Linked DNA regions of Homo sapiens: region 2 is linked to region 1. The links come from fine-mapping of genetic effects on gene expression. A gene starts in region 1. The other region holds a variant in brackets. All regions are shown on one strand. Distances are from middle to middle.

Evidence for each region. PIP is the estimated chance that this variant, and not a neighbour inherited with it, causes the effect.
Region 2: its variant is the best candidate, but not a certain one, in a credible set for the expression of NDRG3 in whole blood (TOPMed, PIP 0.67).

The regions. Positions count from the first base shown.
Region 1 is chr20:36,744,396-36,747,301 of GRCh38, reverse strand. NDRG3 (NDRG family member 3) reads left to right here and starts at 1,212. Exons shown (of 16, transcript NM_032013.4): 1 at 1,212-1,257. RefSeq lists enhancers at 959-1,058, 783-1,749 and silencers at 1,169-1,368, 1,399-1,588.
Region 2 is chr20:36,648,852-36,651,757 of GRCh38, reverse strand. No RefSeq gene overlaps it. Among named protein-coding and RNA genes, the nearest start is that of SLA2, 4.1 kb to the right of the region's middle. The variant C/T (reference allele first, on the strand shown) is at 1,734.

The DNA of each region.
Region 1 (2,906 bases):
CACCTGTAATCCCAGCACTTTGGGACGCAGAAGCAGGCGGATTGCTTGAGGTCAGGAGTTTGAGACCAGCTTGGCCAACATGGTGAAACCCCATCTCTACTAAAAAAAAAAAAATACAAAAATTACCCAGGCATGGTGGCGCCCGCCTCTAGTCCCAGCTACTTGGGAGGCTGAGGGACTTGGGAACCTGAGCCGAGATGGCGACACTGGCTCGGGTTAAAAGGGCGTGGTGGCTCACACACCTGTAATCCCAGCACTTTGGGAGGCCGAGGCGGGCAGATGACGAGGTCAAGAGATCGAGACCATCCTGGCCAACACGGTGAAAACCCGTCTCTACTAATAATAGAAAAATTAGCCAGGCCCGGTGGCACACGCCTACAGTGCCAGCTACTCGGGAGGCTGAGGCAGGAGAATCGCTTGAACCCAGGAGGCAGAGGTTGCAGTGAGCCGAGATCGCGCTAGTGCACTCCAGCCTGGCGACAGAGTGAGACTCCGTCTCAAAAAACAAAACAAAACAAAACAAAAAAACTTTTAGTCAGTGGTACTTAATGGTAAAGAAATAATAGATAATAAATAGAGGAAGAGTGTGTCCTGTACATTTTGGTGTTAAATTGTTGGGTCATTAAGTTTAATATCTGCAATCATTCTGGGAAAAAAAATTCCATCTCTAATGTTGCATTCAAGAAAGTAGATGATTTGGCTGACGGTTGTAATAGGGGTGATACAATGGAGGACTGGTAATTCGGAGCCCTGAGTCTTGGACTCTAGTTCTTAAATTACTATGTTCATTCACCAAAAATTTACTAAGCTCTTTCCACGTGCCGAGCACTGTGCTAGGCGCCCTGTGACCTTGGGTATGGCTCTAGGTCACCTTAAAAGGAGGATGCCATACCCTGCAAGAGCTCTTAGGGGCTTCATAAGGATGCGACTCAGGGAACTGAGGGAAGCGCTCCAGACGCAGAGCTCAATGGCCCTGCCGCCCAGCGCCTCCAAAATCTGAGATTCTTCTCTGAGGAAACTCCGCAGCAAGAAAAACTACATCAAAGATGGCGCCGCCGGCCTCTCCTGGCTCAGCCACCATCTTCTCGGTAGTTCCCGAGGTGGACGGGCACAGCACTCATGCGCCGCCCTGGCGTCCTCGGCGCGCCTGCGCGGACCGCAGCACCTCCCCCGCCCCTCTCGCCGCCGCCGCCGCCGCCGCCGCCGCCGCCGCCGCCGCCGCTGCTGCTGCACTGACGGCGGGTGCCCGCGCCTCAGGTGAGTGAGCGCCTCCGCCCGGCCCGCGGGGGGCGCGCGGCGCCGCATTCGGGGGCGTCGCTCCTTTGCCCTGCTCCTTCCCCGCATCATCTCCGCGGCACGGCGAGGCCCTGGTGGCCCGTGCTGCTTGCCTCCCCCGTGCCCCCGGGGCCCTCTGCCCCGCCCCGCCCGCCCGCCGGACCCAGGTCAGCCCGGCTTTCCTCGGCCGCTCCCCGCGCCCAGCCCGCCGGCGACAGCGTGTGGGTAGCAAGAGAGCCTCCCTCCGGGCTCAACACCCTGGGTCACAGGGACGCCCCCCGCAGGCGCGAACCCTTCTCTCGCTCTGGCTCTGCAGGCGGCAGAGCTTGGTGGGCCTTGGGGTTGCTCATCCATCTACCTCGCCCGCTCCAAGAGCCCAGATGCTTGGAAGAGGGGCCGTGAGCAGCCCTTGCACCCGTCCGGCCCCAGAGCAGCAGAGGGCATCCTCTAACGGGACCCTACGACTACCCTACCGGGGAGAGGCTTCTTAGCCCCACTTAACAGCCGAGGAAACTGAGGCACGGAAAGGTGAAGTGCCATGCCCAAGGTCACGCAGCTGACAAGTGGCAGGGTCAGCTCTCAACTCAGGGTCTCGGGCTCTCAGGCCAGTGCGGTTGGAATTTGATCTCGTACCTTTGAAAAAATTTTGAAATCACTTGTCATCTCTGAAGTTGCTCTCGAACGTCGTAAAAGTAGGCTGCACAAAAAAGATTTTCTTGTTGTCGGAGTACAATTGAGGTGTTACTGTAATAATAATAGTGTTATTAATATAAGAGCTAACGTTCTTCCACCGCTCGCTGTGTGCCAGGGATCTTGCTAAGCATTTTATTAAGATAACCTCGCATAACCACCTCTGCACTTCCCAATCCAAATGCTTCCCCCTTCCTTGTCATGAAGCCCTTTTTTTCTTCCTGCAGAGCTGGCCTCCCTATCACAGGTAGACTAGGAGCCCCGTGGATTAGGAAGCAGGGAAGCTTTCCTTTGGTGGCTTACTGACAGAACAAGAGTGATCCTTGCCTGCTGGCATCCAGATCACCCCCGCCGCGCCCCCCCCCCCCCTTACCCTGGCCCTCAGGGGATATTATTAGCCTTCCTTTCCTGCCAAGAGAGCAGGACTGGGCTGACTGGGCTAGCTGGGCGGGCTGGACTTGGAGGTGACAGAGCAGATTTGGCTAGCACTCACCTCATTCCGGGGCTTTCTGTCCGAGGCTTTCTGCCTTTGCCCCAAGGTTGGGCTTGAACATTTCAGTATTTAAGATAAAGCAAGAAGAGAAAGAGAACATTGATAGAGTGGTGCTGAATTTAAGAAGCCTCCCATGATTTAAAGTTCCAAATGAACAGCTATAAAAATATGTGAATGTTTCTCCCCCAAAATAACTAGCTCAAACTGTCGTTTTTCTCCCTTAGCAAATCCTCCTCCACATTTCAAAGGCTCCACTAAATCACCACCTTCTCTGTGAAGCCTTCCCTGCTTGATTTTCCCAATTAGAATTACACGTTCACAAAACAGGGTCTTAGCCTCAGTCTTACCCTGCGGACTTCTAGCCCCTTGAGGGCATGGTCCATCTTTGCAGCTCCAGATGCCTGGCTCACAGTAGATCCTTGGTAAGGACTCAGTTAATTTCCACCCC
Region 2 (2,906 bases), 96 kb after region 1:
GTTATTTCTTTCAAGCCATTCACTGGGGTTCAGGGCAGGACCGAGTTGCTGTATGCTGGTTCTGTGTTGCCATTTTCACATGTGATTGCTTATCCACCAAGCGACACTGTCCATTTATAGGAGGAAATGAAGACTGATGATAAATCATTTGCCCAAGGTCATGCAGCCAATAAGTCCAGCCAGGATCAAATCCCAGGGAATTATGCAGAATTCTATCTGATGTGTCTGTATTTCCCTCAAGCCAAAAATCGTGAGAAGCCTGACAGTGTTGTTTGTGATGGAGGAGGAGAAGCTGAGGTCTTGAGAAGGTGGTCCACGTCACAGCTCCACCACCTGTGTGGGATTGCTGGGTTCCACCTCTCATTTTAATAATCTGCAACCACTTGTCTTCTAAGAGACCAGCTTGTGTTTCTCCAGAAATGGCTATATTTGTACCCATCAAGAATAATTTCAGACCGAGTGCAGTGGCTCACGCCTGTAATCCCAACACTCTGGGAGGCCAAGGTGGGCGGATCACCTGAGGTCAGGAGTTAAAGACCAGCCTGGCCAACATGGTGAAACCCTGTTTCTACTAAAAATACAAAAATTAGCCAGGCATGGTGGTATGTGCCTGTAATCCCAGCTACTTGGAAGGCTGAGGCAGGAGAATCACTTGAACCCGGGAGGTGGAGTTTGCAGTGAGCCAAGATCACACCACTGCACTCTAGCCTGGGCTACAGAGCGAGACTGTCTCAAAAAAAAAAAAAAAAAAAAAAGCCAGGCATGGTGGCTCACGCCTGTAATCCCAGCACTTTGGGAGGCCAAGGCGGGCGGATCACTGGAGGTCAGGAGTTCGAGACCAGCCTGACCAATGTGATAAAACCCTGTCTCTACTAAAAATACAAAAAAAAAAAAAAAAATTAGTCGAGCGTGGTGGCATGCACCTGTAATCCCGCTACTCGGGAGGCTGAGACAGGAGAATCGCTTGAACCCAGGAGGTGGAGATTGCAGTGAGCCAAGATTGCACCATTGCATTCCAGCCTGGGTAACAAGAGTAAAACTCCGTCTCCAGAAAAAAAAAAAAAAAAAAAAAAAAAGAATAATTTCAGAAGACCACCATCTCAGATGAGTTTTCAGTAACCCGGGGCAAGTGCCAGCAAAAGTGCATGTGGATTGCTACATCTGTGACAGGCACTCGTAAAAAATGACATGAACCACCGGGCGCGGTGGCTCACGCCAGTAATCCCAGCACTTTGGGAGGCTGAGGTGGGCAGATCACGAGGTCGGGAGATCGAGACCATCCTGGCTAACACAGTGAAACCCCATCTCTACTAAAAATACAAAAAATTCGTCGGGCGTGGTGGTGGGCACCTGTAGTCCTAGCTACTCAGGAGGCTGAGGCAGGAGAATGGCGTGAACCCGGGAGGCGGAGCTAGCAGAGAGCGGAGATAGCGCTACTGCACTCCAGCCTGTGCGACAGAGAAAGACTCTTGTCTCAAAAAAAAAAAAAAAAAAGACATGCCCATTCTGGCAGAGGAGTTGAAACAAATGCATATGAACAGATAAAGATTACCAGGCTGAAGCCTTACAATGCAGGCCAATGCTCCACAGAATGCTGACATGGGAAGGAACTGATCTGATGGCCTCAGTTGCCTTTTTTTTTGTTTTTTGTTTGGTTATGTTTTGTTCTGAGATGGAGTCTCGCTCTGTCGCCCAGGCTGGAGTGCAGTGGCATGATATCCACTCACTGCAAC[C/T]TCCTCCTCCTAGGTTCAAGCAATTCTCCTGTCTCAGCCTTCTGAGTAGCTGGGACTACAAGCATGTGCCACCACGCCCAGCTAATTTTTAGTAGAGATGGGGTTTCGCCATGTTGACCAGGCTGGTCTGGAACTCCTGACTTCAAGTGATCTGCCCGCCTCAGCCTCCCAAAGTGCTGGAATTACAGGCATGAGCCCCTGCGCTGGGCCCTTTTTTTTTTTTTTTTTTTTTTTTTTTTTGAAACAGTGTCTCACTTTGTCACCCAAGCTGGATGGCAGTGGTGTAATCATAGCTCACTGCAGCCTCAAACTTCTGGGCTCAAGCCATCCTCCCACTTCAGCCTCTTGAGGAGCAGGGACTACAGGCATGCACCACCATGCCTGGCTAATTTTTTATTTTTTGTAGAGACAGCATATCACGTTGTTGCCTAGGCTAGACTTGAACTCCTGACCTCAAGTGATCTTGCCTCAGCCTCCCAAAATGCTAGGGTTACAGGTGTGGGAATCAGCCCTTTATTGAGCATCTATATATAGGCCAGGCCCTTAATGCCTTCCTATAAATTTCCTTCTATTGATCCAGTGAGATACATGCTATTCCCATTTTATAGATGCAGAAACAGGTCCAGAGATAACTAGCTTGTAAATGGTCACAAAACTAGTAAGTGGCTATATGGGAAACAGTTTCCTCCACTACACTCAACACTTCCAACACTGCTGTGACCAAATGTGTGAGCTTTTTTCCCATATACCAACCAGTTCTCCAACACCCCAGACACTGAGTAGGTGTCCTAAATTACCACACCAGCTTCCTGGAGTTAGTACAGACCCTACAGGTTAAGGGTTCAGGCCCACAAGACCGCCCCCTGCTTTAGATGCCAGGTGCAAGCAGTGGATCCCCAGGTTATTCATACTTCTGTCCAACCTGGCTACAAACTAGACCCCCTCCCTCAGGTTTGATAGTTCGCTAAGATGGCTCACGGAACTCAGGGAAACACTGAATTTACCGGTTTATTATTCAAAAGGATATGAGGCTGGGTGCAGTGGCTCACACCTGTAATCCCAGCAGTTTGGGAGGCAGGAGGACTGCTTGAGCCCAGGAGTTCAAGACCAGCCTGGGCAATATAGTGAGACCCTGTCTGTATTCTAGAAACAGAAAAAAATAAAATAAAAAGG